Regions from separate parts of the Homo sapiens genome. Here region 1 is linked to region 2. The links come from fine-mapping of genetic effects on gene expression. Tissue or cell type: whole blood. Region 2 holds a variant in brackets; the other region holds the start of a gene. All regions are shown on one strand. Distances are from middle to middle.

Region 1 (9,116 bases), 48 kb before region 2:
GAGAACATGTGCCCAAGGTGGTCGGGGAGCAGCTTGGCTTTACATATTTTAAGGAGGCATGAGACATCAATCAAATACATTTAAGAAATATACTGGTTTGGTTCAGAAAGGCGGGACAATTCAAAGTAGGGGCTTCTGGGCTATAGGTAAATTTAAACATTTTCTGGTTGACAATTGGTTGAGTTTATCTGAAGACCTGGGACCCACAGAAAGGAACTGTTCAGGTTAAGATAAAGGACTGTGGAGACCCAGTTTTATTGTGCAGAGGAAGCTCTCAGCAGGACTTTAGAGAGACAGTAGGTTGTAAAATTTTGTTTCTTATCGGAACTAAATGGGTGCCTGGCTCTTAGCTGATTATCTCCTAGATCTGGAAAGGAAGTGAGAGGTGACAACGTGTTAGCAGCCCTCGCTCACTCTCAGCTCCTCCTCGGCCTCGGCGTCCGCTCAGGCCATGCTTGAAGAGCCCTTCAGCCTGCCGCTGCACTGTGGGAGCCCCTCTTTGGGCTGGTCGAGGCCAGAGCCGGCTCTCTCAGCTTGCAGGGAGGTGTGGGGGGAGAGGCGCAGGCAGGAACCAGGGCTGTGTGCAGTGCTCGCAGGCCAGCACGCGTTCCGTGTGGGTGCGGGCTTGGCAGGCCCCACGCTCAAAGTGGCCGGCCAGCACCGCTGGCCCCAGGCAGTGAGGGGCTTAGCACTCAGGCCAGCAGCTGCAGAGGGTGCGCCGGGTCCCCCAGCACTACCAGCCCACCTGCGCCACGCTTGGATTCTCACCGGGCCTCAGCCACCTCCCCACGGGGCAGGGCTCAGGACCTGCAGCTCACCATGCCCGAGCCACCCCCACCATGGGCTCCCTCACAGCCTGAGCCTCCCTGATGGGCACCGCCCCCTGCTCCACGGCGCCTGGTCCCATCGACCGCACAAGAGCTGAGGTGTGCATGTGCGCAGCACGGGACTGGAGGGCAGCTCTGCCCACAGCCCCAGCACAGGATCCACTAGGCAAAGCCAACTGGACTCTAGAGTCAGGTGGGGTCTTGGAGAACTTTTATGTCTAGCTGGAAGATTGTATATGCACCAATCAGCACTCTGTGTCTAGGTCGGGGTTTGTGGATGCACCAATCAGCACTCTGTATCTAGCTAATCTGGTGGGGACTTGGAGAACTTTTACGTCTAGCTAGAGGATTGTAAATGCACCAATCAGCACTCTGTGTCTAGCTCAAGGTTTGTAAACACACCAATCAGTGCTCTGTGTGTAGCTAAAGGTTTGTAAACGCACCAATCAGTGCTCTGTGTCTAGCTAATCCAGTGGGGACTTGGAGAACTTTTATGTCTAGCTAGACGATTGTAGATGCATCAATCAGCACTCTGTCTCTAGCTAAAGGTTTGTAAACATACCAATCAGTGCTCTGTGTCTAGCTAATCTAGTGGGGACTTGGAGAACTTTTATGTCTAGCTAGAGGATTGTAAATGCATCAATCAGCACTCTCTGTCTAGCTAAATGTTTGTAAACGCAACAATCAGTGCTCTGTGTCTAGTAATCTGGTGGGGACTTGGAGAACTTTTATGTCTAGCTGGAGGATTGTAAATGCACCAATCAGCACTCTGTGTCTAGCTCAGGGATTGTAAATGCACCAATCAGCACCCTGTCAAAATGGACCAATCAGCTTTCTGTAAAATGGACCAATCAGCTCTCTGTAAAATGGACCAATCAGCAGGATGTGGGTGGGGGCCAGATAAAGGAATAAAAGCAGGCTGACTGGGCCAGCAGCAGCAACCTGCTGGGGTCCCCTTTCATGTTGTAGAAGCTTTGTTCTTTTGCTCTTTGCAATAAATCTTGCTGCTGCTCACTCTTTGGGTCCACGCTGCCTTTATGAGCTGTAACACTCACCGCGAAGGTCTGCAGCTTCACTCCTGAAGCCAGCAAGACCACAAACCCACCAGGAGGGACAAATAACTCTGGACAGGAGGAATGAACAACTCCAGATGTGCTGCCTTTAAGAGCTGTAACAGTCACCGCAAAGGTCTGCAGCTCCACTCCTGAAGCCAGCAAGACCATGAGCCCACCAGAAGGAAGAAACTCCGGACACATCTGAACATCTGAAGAAACAAACTCCGGACACATGACACACCATCTTTAAGAACTGTAAGACTCACCGCAAGTATTCGCAGCTTCATTCTTGAAGTCGGCGAGACCAAGAACCCACCAATTCCGGACACAGAAGGAAGGAAAACAAAGGGGAAAGCAGATTCTCTACAGAATGTGGATTTTTCCCATAAGAGACTTTGCAGGACAATTTCAAGGTAGGGCAAGGAAAGATATTTTTGGGTAAAATATTTTTATTTTCTTCCTTATTATGCCAGAGTCAGATTGGAAAGTAAGTCATGATATACACGGTTAAATAAAACCCATCTGATGTGCATTTATGGTTTGGAGAACATGACTCCCCAAACCCCTTAGATAGGAATTTGAGCAAGATAAAAAAATCAGAGCTTAGTCCTCAGAACCAACCTAATGCATGATCTCCCAACTTGATCTCTATCTTCCCACAAAAGATTGACTTGGAATGACTTATTATTCCTAAAAATCAATCTATTCTTAAAGGCTTATTTGTCTCTGTAGGGTAGTTGTTAAGAGTTAAAGAAAGAAGAGAGAAACACAAAAAGTGGCTCAACAATCAAGGATAGGTTTATTTTAGAGAATAAACCTGAGAGGGGCTTCTGGCCAATTTTGGTCAGGAGCACTCTCTCTTACAGACTAAGAGTATTTAAGGGTTTAGGGTGAGAGAGCTTATCACAGGCTTGGAATATTTCTGCTTGGAGGAGAAGTTTATTACAGGGTTGGAATGTCTCTGGTTGGAGGGGAGGGGTTATCTTGGGGCTGACATCGCTCCGGTCAGAGGGAAGGTTATCTTGGGGCTGACATCGCTCGGTCAGAGGGAAGGTTATCTTGGGGCTGGCATGTGTCTGGTGGGAGAGGGGTTTATCTTAGAGTTAGAATGTTTCTGGTCGGAGGTGTCATTTGTGGTTTGTGGTCATGCTGACAGCCATTAGGCTGATGCCCTCTGGGTTGGATTTAGGTGGTTTTTGATCAAGGGGCACTTTAAAATGGCAGTGCTTCTGCTCTGTCAATAGTAGGATATGCCAACCCAAAATATGGCACTTTGGCATAAAGATTATTTTCGAGTCAAAGGCACTTAAAAAAAAAATGCAAAAAGAGCACTGTGGCTTTCCTTTTTCCTTCCTGAAAGCAGGAGATAAAACTTCCGTATGAAAGGTGCCCTCCCTGTATAAGGAGGAAGGGAGATGTTCTCAACACCAGAGACATGGAGTCAAAGCTGAGCTGTATCTGCACAAACTTACCGATTTTCATTTCCACTTTGTTACAACAACCTTTATCTTCTTAGTCACTTCTGCATTAACTGCACTAACCCAAATCTGTTTGTTTTCTCACATTTTCACAATTTACTACTCTTTTTAGCCTTCCCTAGAAAAATGGAGACTCAAAAGCACTTAGGGTCCAACTGTTAATTTGGGTCTCCATTTTTCTAGGGAAGGCTCCAATGTAAATGTAAAAATTACTAAATAAAATTTGTATGCTTTCCTCCTGTTATGTTTTATGTCTCTATTTTACGTCAGTGGAGACTAAGCTCTGATTTTTTTTTTAATCTTGCTCAAATTCCTATCTAAGGGGCCTAGGGATTCATGCCCTACAATCCATAAATTCTCATCAGATGGGTTTTATTTAACCCTATATATTGTGACTTACTTTCCAATCTGACACTGGCATAACGAGACAAGAAACAAAATCAAAATATTTTACCGCAAAACATTTTTTTTAGTTTTTGACATATCTTGAAACGGCTCTGCAAAGCTGTCCTTTGTTGGGGGAAAATCTGCATCTACATAGAATTTCTATTAACATAGCTAGATCATTTTCTTCCAGGTCCTCCCAATCCTAAAGAGATTACGTAAGAATCTAGCACCTTTTAAAGATCTGAATAGGAAACATTTGTCATCCATTGTCTCTAAGGGCAGCCACTATAAGACTTCAAAAGAACCTTGGTCTCCACAATCTTTTATTTTAACCTCAACATTTCCTTTCTATGGGTCCCAGGTCTTCAACTGTCAACCAGAAAATGTTTAAATTTACCTACAGCCTTGGAAGCCCCTGCTTTGAGTTGTCCCACCTTTCTGAACCAAACCAATGTAGTTCTTAAATTTATTTGATTGATGTCTCATGCCTCCCTAAAATACATAAAACCAAGCTGCGCCCCAACCACCTTGGACACATGTTCTCAGGACCTCCTGAGGGCTCTGTCACGGGCCATGGTCACTCACATTTGGCTCAGAATAAATCTCTTCAAATATTTTAGAGTTTGACTCTTTTCCTCATCAGTTTAATTCTTAGGCCCAGCCAAGACCCCAAGAGGGGAGAGGAAATATTTTCACTTTCCCTACACCAGTGTTAAGAAGCCCAAGAACGCAATTCAGAGGGCTTCCCAAATCATTTTGAAGAATGGTAACATCTCTAGAATATCAATTAGATCGTAGGGGAGTACATAAGTCATGTGTACACCTTTAGGTGTTTGTGAAAACCAAGGCATATAAAATATCACATTATTTGGCCTCAGTACATTCCCATACTGACAAGCACTGTACCATTTTTCCCCCGCTCTAAGCAAGGGCTTCCTGGGGGGAAGAGTCTGTGGTTGGGTGTTCAGAAGCAGAGAGTGCTCTCCCAAAGCTAAACGATGCCGCCAACTACTGTGAAACTTAACTTCCCCTCTCCCGGAATTCTCATGGAAGACAAGGTCTGATCAACCGAGGGCTTAAGAAGTATCAAATTGGAACTCATGGAATCACTGGCGGAGCTGATTTACATATGAGAATTCCTAAGCCTCACAGCATAGAAATTTTCATGCCAGATGGTCCTGAAAAAGTTGTTTTAATTGGCTACCAAAGGTTTACCTTGCAAACACCAAGTTCTTAAAGATTACAAAATCTAATAAAGCCGAAGTGTGAATTAAACTTAACCGCAAGAGGAGTCACCTGCGGTCACCTCGTTTCGCCCACAACAAAGATGTCTGCGCATCGCTTACCGTGGAGCCGTTCCAGTGCGTGGGCCACGCGTCCGCCCTTTTCCGCGTCACATGACCACGAACACTCTTCCGCTACGGCTCCCAGAAGGGGCCAGCCCGCGCCTTTCGCGCTTCTGCCCTGGCCCTCTGCGGGCCGCTCCGCCGGTGCTGTCCCTGGGCGCCTCCGTGCTCTCAGCCAACCACCTCTGAGAGCGCCCACTCGAGCGCCCCGGGAGCCAGAGGGCGGGGGTCCTCGCCGGGACCCTCCTGTGGGCCCAGGGGTGAGTGTTGACGTCTTCCCGACCCGCGACCTGCCGCCCGAGCTGGCTGCCAGGCCTATCGCCGCCGCCGAGACCCTCCGGCCAACAGGGACCCGCGGTGGCCCCGGCCCCCCCGGTAGTGTCTCCCTGACCCGAGTCCCGTCCCCGGGCCTCTTGCCTTCAACCCTGGTCTTTCCTCCTCCCCGGGACCTTGAGTCCCCGAGGAGAGCGAGGGAGAGGAGCGTCTTCTGCAGGTGTTTTTGGGCGAACCTCTTCACCTTGTGTGGTTCGGCGTCTCCTTTTGTGTATTAACCCGGACTTTTCCGACTGGAAAATAGGGGTTTGGGAAGCAGCGGGAGTCCCGTGAGCGTGAACGCCGGGCTTTGCAGGTCTTCACTCATCCTTCCCTGCCAAGGCCCTGACACCTTACAGGCTGACCTTAAACCTGCCTTGTTTAAAAGGAGGTTTTTGTGTTGTTTTGTGGCAAGTACATTTTGGAAAAGAAGGGCCTTGTTGGAAGCCCAGGTTGTGGCATCGCGGGTGGCTGCGGGCCACCCTGTCCGTCTGTGAGCATCCCTGCTCGCAGATGTGGCTGCAGGCAGTTGCTCTCGGGTTTCCTTCCAGGAGCTGGGAAGCCGGAGGAAAGCTGCGGTTCCTGTTCCGCCGAGCTTCTGACCTTCCTCTGCAGGACGTGTGCTACTATTACTATCGTAAAAGAACACCCCTGTCTACCTCCCACAAAGTTAGAAGCAAAGGGCATTCTCGAGGGAAGAGCACCCTTTCAAAAGTGACATGTTTTCATTGGAGAACATTAAAGGGGAAAAAAAAAAAAAAGGTTTCTGGCCCTTCTGCCCAAATATAGAACCATTTGTATTCAGGCCTCTCATCCACCGAGAGACTTAAGATGATCACAAATGTTTTGTCTCCCTGCGTGAAAAACATTTTTTCTGCCTCAATTCCGTTGGCTAATGAGAGCCCAAAAGAAAAACCCTTAGGAAAATTAGGACGATTTAGTTATACTTAGTAGTCTTTTCCCATGCAATTAAATTGCTTGGGGGACCTTCTATCTTTTGGTTTCAAAGGCTTGTATATTGGTTTTGCCATTTTTTCCAAAAGGAAATTGTGTTCTCTCCCTTCCTGTCTGATAGAGCTGCCTCCTTTCAGAATTGCAAAGTTTAGTCTTCGCTCTCCTCTCTTCTGGTATTGAAACTTTTCTGTGGGTTCATAACCTTATTTTAAAGTTCATTAATATATAGTTTTAAAAGTTTGCAGTGACTTTTTAAATATAGTTTCTTTGAAAAAGAACTGAAACAGGGTGTGCAGAGTGGCCCATCTGTGTGAACTAGGTCCACGCAGTAGGTAATAAACAACTGGAGGGTTTTTTTTGGTTTGTTTTTGTTTGTTTGTATGTTTGTTTTTGAAAAGTACATAAACATTTGCAACCACAGTCAGTTTGACTCAAGTTGTTTCGGTGACTTCCGAGGCTTTCTGGGTTCCAGTGTTCTAATACAGAAAATGAGAAAGTTGGGCTGGAATCATTGTGTCCCAAAATTGGTACACTTTCCGCTAGTGGCATGTGACTTGACTCTAGGCGGTACGTGGATGAGGATTTTTTTGTAATAGGATGTTTTTGCAATCTGTATTTATATATGTACAGCCATGGTTTAAGGTAGTGATACAAAATTTTCTTTTACAATACTTTTTTGATTTTAAAAAGTCGAGTTAAAAAAATTAACTGTAGCAAAAAGTTAATGTACTCTGTGAATATGGGAAAAAAAAAACCCATGAAGTTGGCAAGTTAGTTACTGGTGTTTGGGAACCACTGGGCTTAGAAAGTAGAAATATGAAATCATCTGTGATTCTAAGAGAGATTTTGCCTCGTTTGTTATGTAACAGAATCACGTACTGGTTGCCTACTGGATTCTAAGGTACAAAACTTCTGGAATTAACATATCAACACCAAATGAGACGTTTATTTATTGCCAAAAGATATTATCAGAAATGCCACAGTCTAACGAGGGAGAAAAAAAATCAGATTTTGATTGGTTTTAAGCAGAAAACCCAATAATTGGGATAATACAGTGTTAAATCTTAGTAGAAATCCAGTTACTTTTTAAATGTAAGTAGTTCAGCTACAGGAGAACTTGGCTTTTTCCAGAAGTTGGCATTTCAGCATCCACCTTTATTTTCTAAGTCACTAGTTTTTTACAAACTCAGATATTCTCGTAAGAAAAGATGTTGCTATAGAATGGAATATAGTAGTGAGACCTATGAGATGTACTACTAGAAAGTTCGTAAGACTGAAATGCAATGAATGGAATGCAGAGAAAGCACATTTCAAGGAGATACTGAGGTTCTAGCCACTTGGTTCTCGTTTATTATTATAAAACTTCAATTTATAATGGCCAAAGGCTATAATCTTTTTGAGGTAGCTTTTTTCAGTGTTAGTTCTGAATATGAGCTTTTGCTATGCTTGAGATACACGCAAGTATTAGAAGAGCATCTCATCTGGAATGATGCACAAAAATTGATTATAAAGGTTGCCTGTGGGAACCTGGGTGGTTAAGGATAGGATTGAAAGTGGGACACTTCCTTTTCTCTGTATAGCTTGCGTACTTTGTACCGAGTACATGCATTACTAGTTCAAAATTTTAACATCGTAAGTGAATGAAAATTTAAACAGGCCGGGCACGGTGGCTCACACCTGTAGTCCCAGCACTTTAGGAGACGAAGGCCAGAGGATTTCTTGAGCCTAGGAGTTTGAGATCAGCCTGAACAACATAATAAGACCCTGTCTCAACAAAAAATACAAAAATTAGCTGGGTGTGGTGGCATATGCCTGTAGTCCCAGCTATTCAGGAAGCTCCATTGCAATCTAGCCCGGGTGACAAAAAAAAAAAAAAAAAAAAAAAAACCAATTCATTTGTTCTTCTTTAACATATATGTGTACCTATATGCATATATATACGTAAGTATTAGATTCATTTAAACTTACGTATTTTTCATCTGCCACATTTTTCTAAATACAAATCAGAAACAATGACAGAGCTAGTCTTTTATATTGCCTTAACTAATGAATAGTTGTAGGACCCCATCTGTGGAACTAAGATTGGTGGTAAGCTTAATTTTTTTCTTTCTTTATTTTCTTACTGGTCTCTTGATGTCAGGTTGTGCATCTTTGTGACTGTTACTATTTGGAGAATTTCCAGTAATGAATCCCTAATAGTGGTTTCATCTAGTTTCTCAATTAGCCCCTGTTTTTCTTCCCCAGGGACAAAAGTGGCTCTCAATCCAGCACATGCACATTGAAGCAAGTTAAAGGATTTAATATGAAGCACAGAAGCAGATAGTGCCAAATAGCAAGCAGTAGTTGTTACACATTTGTGAGTAAAAATGGTCCCTTTTGGCTTACTTTCTTAGTCTTTAAATCGTCTGCATGCCAAATCCTTAAAGATCTATGTCCCCAGAGATTTTTTGATAAAGAATAAAAGATGTGAGTTAGCAGTCATAGTCAAACCAGTTGCTGGGGCTGAGCGTCCTGAGCAACCTCTAAGAGCTCTCCTAGGCATCTCAGTGAGGCGGGGGCTTAGGGTGGGGCTATATCTCCAGCATGGAGTTTAGGAAATACCTTAGCCATGGTAAAGTCATGTATACTGTCTTTAACTTTTTATGTCTTTAATTTATATATAGTGTCTTTGCTGAAAATTTAGTGTAATTTCCATTTGAAGTTTACCCTAAATTTTGAAGTTTATTTTTATTTAAAGAAACCATTAGACGTCAAATA
Region 2 (10,644 bases):
GCCACTGTGTTAGAAAGATTGTACACATCTTTATTTCGTGAGTCAGTCATGAGAGCAGAAGAAGGCATGGAATTTGGCATAGGAAACTGAATGAAAGTTCGTGTTTGTTTTTCCAAAAATAAGCTCTTAGGCCAGGCACAGTGGCTCATGCCTGTAGTCCCAGCACTTTGGGAGGCCAAGGAGGGTAGATTGCTTGAGCCCAGGAGTTCGAGACTAGCCTGGGCAACGTAGTAAGAGCCCATCTCTAAAAGAAAAAAAAAAGAAGGAAACTTTTGTATTGTTTCAGTGAAGTTGTTAGTCACTGATGATTATTTCAAAATCAGCAGAAATGAAGCGAGGGAATGCTTTTCCTTTTTCTTTGCTGGGATAATGCAGCTCCCACAGGGTCTGTGTGTTGTGTTCTTGAGACCTGCCTTTTATGAGTGCAGAATAAGGTGGCTACCTATAGAGTTGTGTTGAGGGATGTTGTGCTCTACATATATCATCTCATTTAATTCTTTTCATAATCCCAAGAGGTAGATACTATTATTATTTCCATTTTATAGATGAGAAAACTGTGTATCATGGAGATGGACAAAACTTGTCAGGCTCTCACAGCTGGGAAACACTTTAATCACTATTCTTCTTCCAGCCAAAAGTTCAGAATGATGGATTTGGAGTCTACTTCAAATCCTGATTCTTCCATGCTACTGTGACTTGTGCAGTTACTTAAATGTACTCATCAAGAAGTGCCATGGTGTTTATTTTTAACCATCTATTTTTTTTTTTTTTTTTTTTTGGAGACGGAGTCTCGCTGTGTCGCCCAGGCTGGAGTGCAGTGGCATGATCTCGGCTCACTGCAAGCTCCGCCTCCCGGGTTCACGCCATTCTCCTGCCTCAGCCTCCTGAGTAGCTGGGACTACAGGCACCCGCCACCACGCCCGGCTAATTTTTTGTATTTTTAGTAGAGATGGGGTTTCACCCTGTTAACCAGGATGGTCTCCATCTCCTGACCTTGTGATCCGCCCGCCTCAGCCTCCCAAAGTGCTGGGATTACAGGCGTGAGCCACCACGCCTGGCCGCCATCTATTATTTATATATATATATATATATAATTTTTTGTTTTTGAGACGGAGCCTTTCTTTGTTTCCCAGGATAGAGTGCAGTGGCGCTATCTGGGCTCACTGTAACCTCTGCCTCCTGGGTTCAAGAAATTCTCCTGCCTCAGCCTCCCAAGTAGCTGGGATTACAGATGCCCGCCACTACACCTGGCTAATTTTTTTATTTTTATTTTTTGTATTTTTAGTAGAGACAGGGTTTCACCATATTGGCCAGGCTGGTTTCAAACTCCTGAACTCAAGTGATCCGCCCACCTCAGCCTCCCAAAGTGCTGGGATTGCAGGCGTGAGCCACCGCACCCAGCCATATTATCTTTGAGTTCTCATCCCTACAAAAGGCCTGGCTTTAGAAAGTGATTCCAGGCATGTGTATTTCCCCTAAAGGGGATTCACTTAAATGATTCAGCAAAACCATTTTGTATTCAGAAGCAAAAATAAGAACTGGAAAAAGGGAAGAAGCAAAGAACAGTTAAAATAGGGGACAAGCCTTGGTCAACCCTTTCCCTTCCTCCCAAGATGTTGCCTTTGCCACTTGTCTCATGTTTTGGTCTTATCTAGGCCTCAAAGACACCAGATACGACATAAAAACCAGTTCTTAGAGGATACACCTATCGGAAAAGCCTATATAAGTGTTTTGATATTTTTGATTTCAGGAATTCAGAAATGTCTCAGGATGTCAAGAATGTTGTGAACACCACATAGAAAAGATACAAAGTCAAATTCCAAATTATTATCGTTTACAAAGAAAAGTGACAGGGAAGGGAAACTGAAAATTAGTGTTTATTGAATACCTAAAATGTATTCAGACAAAAATAGACTAGAACTAATTAGCATAATTATTGTAATCCTAGATAAATATCAAATGTCAGAAAAAGGGTAATTTTTAAAAATATGAATCTTCCATTATGGATAGAAATATCTGGTTTGTTTTTTTTAAGTAGTGGTTCTAACCCCTGGCCAAATTATCTTGAGTGCTTTTGAAAAATACTGATGCAGAATCTCTGGCGGCCACCCAGGCACTGGTATTTTTTTAAATCTCTTTAGATAATTCTAATATCCCCATCTGTCTTTTTTTTTTTTTTTTTTGAGAGAGTCTTACTCATCTGTTGCCCAGGCTGAAGTGCAGTGATGTGATCTCGGCTCACTGAAACCTTTGCCTCCTGGGTTCAAGAGATTCTCCTGCATCAACCTTCTGAGTATCTGGGATTACAGGCATGGGCCACCGTGCCCAGCTAATTTTTGTATTTTTAGTAGAGACGGGGTTTCACCATGTTGGCCAGGCTGGTCTTGAATTCTAGACCTCAAGTGATCCTCCCACCTCAGCCTCCCAAAGTGCTGTGAGCCACCGTGCCCAGCCTAATGTTCCCATCCATCTGAGAACCATTGCTCTGAAAGCTCAAGCTCAGCCAAGCAGATTTACTGTGACTGCTTGCTGTCAATCTACCCCTTCCACAGGGAATTGTGAGAGTCCTTATGTTGCTTAATAGCCATGTTCATGGTATAAAGATCATGAATTGTGGGGTGCTCCAGTGGGTTTGGATAAAAATCCACTTACTAGTGTGCTACACTGGCAAATTATTTACTTTCTCTGAGCGTCCATTCCTTCGTCAATCAAACACACTTCTTACTTTTTCCCACTTAAGGGTTTTGAGAGAATTAAATGAAACAGCATCTCTGAAAGTGTTCTGAGCAGAGTGACACTCCGGTTAATGAATCTTAATTTACTTTTAACTTCGTTACGACTTTATACATAGTGGGTAGGCATTAAATGTTTTGGGGGAAAAAAACCTGGCAGCTCCTTTAATTTAACTGGATAAAGGCAATTGTCATTCTAATCCTAGCAAACCAGTCTGTCATTGCATGAGAGAACTGAGTACATTTTCCCTGAGTATTTTATATACGCCACAAAAATATCACACCCGAGTATTATGAAATTGATTGCAGCTGTGGGCGTGACTTACCAATCTCCTTTCTTTGAAAACCTTTAGATTGAGGAAAGGACAATCCACGGAAGACTGAGGAAGGGACAGAAGGCCAACTCTAAATGTTTGTGGGACAAAAAAACCCGTCTCACTTTTTCTACTTCTATATAATCATCCTAAATAGCATGTTTCAGGCCAGGCGCAGTGGCTCAAACCTGTAATCCCAGCACTTTGGGAGGCCGAGGCGAGCAGATCACTCGAGGTCAGGAGTTTGAGACCAGCCTGACCAACATGTTGAAACCCCCATCTCTACTAAAAATACAAAAATTAGCTGGGCGTGATGGTGTGCACCTGTAGTCCCAGCTATTCAGGAGGCTGAGGCAGGAGAATTGCTTGATCCCGGGAGGCAGAAGTTTCAGTGAACCGAGATCGCACCACTGCACTCCAGTCTCAGCAACAGAGCAAGACCCTGTCTCTAAATAAATAAATAAAAATAGCATGTTTCTAAGGCTGTGGCTCTGTCAGTGGAGCCCCACTGTGATTCGGTAGATGCGAGTGACTCAGTGTGGCTTTGCTTAGGTAGCAATAACTGTTCATGCACTTCTGCTTCCACGCCGACTGCTTCATACTTACTCCAGTTCTGTTGTTGCAGCACGCTCTTTTTCTTGCTGTCAAGGACATTGTTGTTGCTGGAATGGCCTGGAAATGACATCAACAGGAAAGATGAGTATTATAACTTCTCATCAGAAGAAAAAATAGTAATCTTCACCTTCCGTTTACCACCAGTTGTGGGAAATCAAGGCTCAAAGAACAAAAAGGGAATTTGGCAATATCCGTGGTTTTGTGAACCTTGTCATCCCAGTTTCAACCAGAAAGATTAAAAGTGGCGGCGGGAACAGGGGAATTCAAGACAGGAGTTTTGAAGTCTTCTATCTACATTCTTAGTTCACTCTGAGTCATCTGCAGAGAATTGGATTTTAAATAGATTAGGATGACTTATTTATACATTATTTTTGGAAGAAATGTTTCTGAAAGAATTGGCTGCATCATCCAAACTCTGTTGTTTGTTTGTTTAAAGAGTAGGGGTCTCACTCTCTTACCCAGGCCAGAGTGCAGTGATACGAGCATAGCTCACTGTAGCCTTGAACTCCTGGGCTCAAATAATCCTCCTGCCTTAGCCTCCTGAGTAGCTAGGACCACAGGTGTAGACCACCACACCTGGCTAATTTTAAAAATATTTTTGTAGAAGCAAGATCTCACTCTGTTGCCCAGACTGGTCCTGAACTCCTGGCCTCAAGAAAACCTCCTGCCAAGAAAACTAAAGATGTGAGCCATTACGCCTGGCCCGATTTCCCAGAAATTGTATGGATTATTCTGGCAAACCTGCAGAAAAGAAATTGATGGTTTTGTTTGCCTGGCAGTTGGGAACAAATCATTCTGTCACCACCCACTCCCACTAGCCTTTCTTTTCCCAGGATCCCGGCTATCTTGCTGGTTTCCCCAAACTTATATTTGAGAATTATTTTTGGTTCCA[C/T]GTTCTCCTTTCTCTTCCTATATCCATGATATGTAATGATCTCACTTTATATATTGATGCTCAGAAATCTATAGATCGCATTCTGCCTTCAGGGAAATACACGTTGCCAAGGAAAGCTGTAAGAAAGAACACCATATTCTCAGGACTTGGGTTTCAATTTTTAGTATATCTAGGCAGCAGCTACGACTAGAAATTCTTACTGGAAGGAGTTTTGTATCATTGAAGGGTGGAATGTAATTATTTCCTTCCGCTTGAGAAATTTTAGGCGTAGGTTTTTTTGCCATCTCAGCACAGCTGCCCTTGAGTGGTTTTTCTCTCTCCTTCTACTCTCATTCTCTAACATTTTCCCGAGCTCTGGCGAATGCCAGACTCTGTTACAGGCACTTTACACGCCTTAGTTTATTCCATCCTCATAATAATCCTATGAGGTAGGTGCTATTATTATTCCCATTTTACCAATGAGAAAACTGAGGCATAGAAAGGACAAATTACTCAAATTGTCCTTCTACTTTCTTGGTAGAAGGGTTGGGATTCAAAACTAGTCATTTGGCTGGGCGCGGTGGCTCATGTCTGTAATCCCAGCACTTTAGGAGGCCGAGGTGGGTGGATCACGAGGTCAGGAGATCGAGACCAGCCTGGCCAACATGAGGAAACCCCGTCTCTACTAAAAATACAAAAATTAGCTGGGCGAGGTGGTGCACACCTGTAGCCCCAGCTACTCAGGAAGCTGAGGCAGAATTACTTGAACCTGGGAGACAGAGGTTGCAGTTAGCTGAGATCATGTGACTGCACTCCGGCCTGGCGACAGAGCGAGACTCTATCTCAAAAAAACAAACAACAACAACAAAAAAAGCTAGTCATTTGGGGTGCAGAGCCCACATAGTTTTTTGTTTTGTTTTGTTTTTTTGAGACAGGGTCTCACTCTGTCACCCAGGCTGAAGTGCGGTGGCATGATCACGGTTCACTGCAGCCTCAACACCCAGGGCTCAAGTGATCCTCCCACCTCAGCCTCCCGAGTCGTTGGGACTACAGATGCATGCCATCACGCCCTGTTAGTTTTAATTTATTCTGGGGGGCATTTTTTTGTAGAGACGGGGATTTTGCCATGTTGCCCAGGCTGGTCTCGAACTCCTGGGCTCAAGTGATCGCCTCGGCCTCCTAAAGCATTGAGATTACAGGTGAGCCTCTGTGCTCAGCCGGGACTCTTAATCCCTATTCCACACTGACTCAAGTCTTACAATTCTCCCCTATTCCTACCTAGAGTTTGTTCATTCTCATCTTCCCTGCTGCCTTCACCCTTGCCCATCTCATTGTCCTTCCAGTTACTCCCACTCTGATTCATTTATCCAAGGCCACATCTGCCTTTATTCTTTTAGCACGGGTTTAAAGTTTATGCCTCTTTACAAGGCAGCTTTCCTAACAAACCTCACTCCATCTGATGATGTACTGCCTCCATGTCACTTTGTATTATTATCAAGCTTTGCTTACACATTGCCTTGAACACCACCACCCTCCTTATTTAGAGGCCACATGTGTATATGGCTGCCTAGCCACCTTGGCGCATAGCTGAAAGCCCAGAAGAAAAGGGAAAAGAAATTTTAGCTCCCAAATAGGTATCAGTATTCGTGCACTAAACATCTTTTATTGTACACATAAGCTGTACTGCCTTTTGAGCTTACAGGACAAATCATTTAGAACGGGAACTGGCAAACTATGGCCCACCACCTCTTTCTTGTAAATAAAGTTTTATTGGAACACAGTCACATCCATGTATTTACATATTGTCTATGGCTACTTTTGTGCACCAAGAGTAGAGTTAAATTGTGTGGAAGAGGCCGGGCGCGGTGGCTCACGTCTGTAATCCCAGCACTTCAGGAAGCCAAGGTGGGCGGATCACGAGATCAGGAGATCGAGACCATCCTGGCCAACATGGTGAAACCCCATCTCTACTAAAATACAAAAAATTAGCCGGGCTTGGTGGCACGTGCCTGTAGTCCCAGCTACCAGGGAGCCTGAGGCAGAGGACTCGCTTGAACGCGGGAGGCAGAGGTTGCAGTGAGCCGAGATCGCGCCACTGCACTCCAGCCTGGTGACAGAGCGAGACTCCGTCTCAAAAAAAAAAAAAAAAAAATATGTGGAAGAGGCTGGTTTATAAACCGAAAATATTGGCTGAATATTTACAGTTTGCCAGCTACAGATTTAGAAAATTAATGATTCTTTTAAAAGAAAGTGCAAGTGTACTCCAGCCTAGATGACAAAGTGAGACCCTGTCTAAAAAAAAAAAAAAAAAAAAAAAAGTGGATTGACATTACAACTTAAATGGATAAATTGTTCTATTTTCCTTGTTGATGCAAACTGAACTCTGGTAACTTTCTTGAAGATAAGTTTATTTCAGAGTTACTAAATATTTCCTTTCATGATTCACTTACAAAGGGGTTTTATAAAGGGACAATTACTTACAGTGTATAAGTCACCACCCCACCGACTTCAAGGCGTATTAACACATCTTTGTAATGCTGTTACTGGTGATTTGACAACTCGCTGCGGTTTCAACCGCTTTCCCATTCAGAGCTCCGGAAATTGGAGGGGCTCTTTAGACAGACACTAAAACTGTGAATGGTGTGTGTGTGTGTGTGTGTATGAATTATATATAAATTTTCCAGATAATCTCCTGCCAAAATGAGTAATTATGAGAACACACTTTCTCTTCATTTCCTAAGCATATTTGAATGCCTGAGTTTTTGTAAAATTAAAAGTCTTGCTAGTCTTTTGTTTTTAAAAAGGAAAGTAATATTGTTGATTTTTTCTTACAGAGCCCCCTAATTGTATTTAGTTTGAGAAGTTACATGATTTTACAAATGAAGTGTGGAAAAACTTCAGACCATTAAAAATCCTGTGATGAAATTCAGACTTTTGGGAGTCCTCTAAGAACTTGAACATGAGAGTAACACACAAAGTCATAGCTCATTACAAATATCAAAACTATATTTTGCAGCCAGGCATGGTGGCTCATGCCTGTAATTCTGGCACTTCGGGAGGCCAAGACAGGAGGCTTGCTTGAACCCAGGAGTTTGACCCCAACCTGGGCAATATAGTGAGACCCTATCTACAAAAAAAAAAAAAAAATTTTGAGACAGAGTCTCACTCTGTCACCTAGGCTGGAGTGCAGTGGCACAATCTCGGCTCTCTGCAACTCCTGCCTCTGGGTACAAGTGATTCTCCTGCCTCAGCCTCCCGAGTAGCTGGGATTACAGGCATGCACCACCATGCCTGGCTAATTTTTGTATTTTTTGATAGAAACGGGTTTCTCCATGTTGGCCAGGCTGGTCTCGAACTCCTGCCCTCAGGTGATCTACCCACCTCAGCCTCTCAAGATGCTGGGATTACAGGCATAAGCCACCATACCTGGCCAAAAAAAAATTTAAGATAAGCTGGGCAATAGTGGTGCATGCCTATAGTCCCAGCTACTGAGGAGGCTGAAGTGGGAGGATCACTTGATCCCAGGAGGTTGAGGATGCAGTGAGTTGTGCTCACAGCACTGCATTCTAGCTTGAGTGACAGAGCATGACCTTGTCTCAAAAACAATGACCAAAAAAAACCAAAGAAAACCCACAAAAGTATATTTTACAAATGTTTGTCATGCCTAATGTCTTCTCATCTGTTTAACTTTCAACAATTTGTTTTTTTCTTTTGAGATGGAGTCTTGCTCTGTCACCTAGGCTGGAGTACAGTGGCGCGATCTCAGCTTACTGCGAGCTCCACCTCCTGGGTTCACACCATTCCCTTGCCGCAGCCTCCTGAGTAGCTAGGACAACAGGAGCCCACCACCAAGCCTGGCTAATTTTTTATATTTTTAGTAGAGACGGCGTTTCACCGTGTTAGCCAGGACGGTCTTGATCTCCTGACCTCGTGATTCGCCCGCCTCGGCCTCCCAAAGTGCTGGGATTACAGACATGAGCCACCGTGCCTGGCCAGCTTTCAACAATTTGTTCTCCATTAAGACTTCAATAGTTGACTTTGATGAGTTACTATTATCTAATAAGTGAACTCAATGAATAAGCATGATTAAGATCAGGCTCACAACCTCATATAAAATAAAATGGCCTTTCTGTTTATATGTTTTCAAGGAAACATTTTGAGATCTTTTTAAAAATACTCGAACAAATAACATTTGTATTGATTTTTCCATTTAAAGTTAAAGATAATTAAGTACATCACATTTTTACTTAGTCATAGTTTTAGAAGATGAAAAGTCCGCCTCCGTTTTAAGTAAGTCATGAAGCCATAAAATGAATATATTTCATGATGTAATCAATAATGAATTCCATAGTTTGTATAATTATCTACTTCCTGCAAAATCCCATTTTTGGTAACAATACTAATTTGAAACACTACAGTAATTCTGGAAAGATTTCAAGAACTATGACCAAAGTGCTTATCACAGGCAGTGATTTCTTCTCTATTAACTTTTTTGTGTAGTTACTAGTATATTGAAAGCTCAGTATTTTGAACTAGTGAGTATTTTCATGGATATTATAAAGGACATATTAATAAATTCCTTTGAAAAACACTTTCTTCCACATTCTCTATCTATCTGAGGATCATGAAAATATACCTGTAGTCTGAGCCCTTTTTACCACCCACCTGTTTGCTTGTGGGCATAGCCTCTGTCTATAAAGTTCATATTGGACTTTTCAAAGAGTTGTCTGATGCTTTAATGACATTCTATAATACAGAATAATAGAGATAGTCTGGTGTTTATATCTTTGATAATACTTACTGAGGGTGATAAAGTAAACTTAGCTGTAGAACGAGGAAGTTCAGATTCTCTGAAACTGTTCCACGAGTTTCTATAATCTTTCTGTGACTCAGTTTCCTGGTCACTTGACTTTATGGATTAATTTATAGATTATATCTTTCACCTCTGGCAGCCCTGAGACAGGTGTTGAGGACTACGGTACTAGCACTGGTGGAAAAACAGAGTTTTGACGTCAGATAAATCTGGAATTTCACATCCATTAGGTGACCTTGTTAACATTCCTAACTTTCTATCTGCTGGCCTATAAAATTCAAGTGATAATAAATGCACACATTATTATAGAGACTAAATGAGATAACAAGGTAATGTATGAACCCAGTAGCTGGCCTTTGGCAGACGGCCAATAAATGAGCACTTATGTCCTTCTGTCTGTCTCTGCCTTTCTCTTTCTCTTCTCTCCCTGCCACACCCGCCACCATCCTAAAATGAAGAATACAGGAGATGTAGGTATGTGTCATCGCCACCTCCGACTCCTTTAATGCTAATACATTTTTTTTAATCTCATGGGATTTGTGGCAGAGCCAATTTATATCTAAAGCTGCATGTGTTATTCTAAGTGGATTGTCTTAACTCAGGAACTTCTAGGAGCTTCATGGAAATTGCTATCGTTAAGTCATGCTCAGCCAGCTGCTCCTGGCTTCTGGTGTAAGCAAATGCAAAAGAGGCTTCTACTACTCAAGCAGAGAGAAGCCTTCTACAGGGAAGAAAACAGACACACGGATGTACAGTTGCTTCATGCTGTTGAGTTGCAATGTGTTTTCTGTCTCTCAGCCTGGAAGAGAGCATTCATGGCAGTGTGAAGAAATAGCCCAAAACTTTCCAAAAGCTTTTTCTTTAATTAGATCTTTCTACCTAAAGCAGAGGAACAGATTCTTTGTGATGGTAAAGGAAGAGTGTTTTTGTAAATCTGGGGATAATACCAGCAGCAGTAACTGATCATAATTCAGAATCAGTGATTCAAGTAGAAAACTATGTCCTGAATTTCTTTAAAAATCACCTCCACAGCCATAAAAAAGGAATGAGATCATGACCTTTGCAGGGACATGGATGGAGCTGGAGGCCATTATCCTTAAACTAACGCATGAACAGAAAACCAAAAACCGCATGTTCTCACTTGTAAGCGGGAGGTAAATGATGAGAACACATGAGCACATAAAAGGGAACAACACACACTGGTGCCTGTTGGAGGGTGGAGAGTGGAGGGTGGGAGGAGGGAGAGGATCAGGCAAAATAAATAATGGGTAGTAGGCTTAATATCTGGATGACGAAATA

Evidence for each region. PIP is the estimated chance that this variant, and not a neighbour inherited with it, causes the effect.
Region 1: it holds the start of MFF-DT, and the variant in region 2 is fine-mapped to the expression of MFF-DT in whole blood (TOPMed, PIP above 0.99). The same link has a PIP of 0.9 or more in T cells, blood mononuclear cells, caudate, fetal neocortex, gastroesophageal junction and lung.

The regions. Positions count from the first base shown.
Region 1 is chr2:227,320,075-227,329,190 of GRCh38, forward strand. It overlaps MFF-DT (MFF divergent transcript), which reads right to left and starts at 5,090. Exons shown (of 14, transcript NR_102371.1): 1 at 5,044-5,090. It overlaps MFF (mitochondrial fission factor), which reads left to right and starts at 5,177. Exons shown (of 9, transcript NM_001277062.2): 1 at 5,177-5,353; 2 at 8,604-8,715. RefSeq lists enhancers at 732-1,260, 4,999-5,048 and a silencer at 5,229-5,518.
Region 2 is chr2:227,367,263-227,377,906 of GRCh38, forward strand. TM4SF20 (transmembrane 4 L six family member 20) reads right to left here. Exons shown (of 4, transcript NM_024795.4): 2 at 3,653-3,718. Among named protein-coding and RNA genes, the nearest start is that of TM4SF20, 6.7 kb to the right of the region's middle. RefSeq lists an enhancer at 3,312-4,511 and a silencer at 9,658-9,858. The variant C/T (reference allele first, on the strand shown) is at 4,554.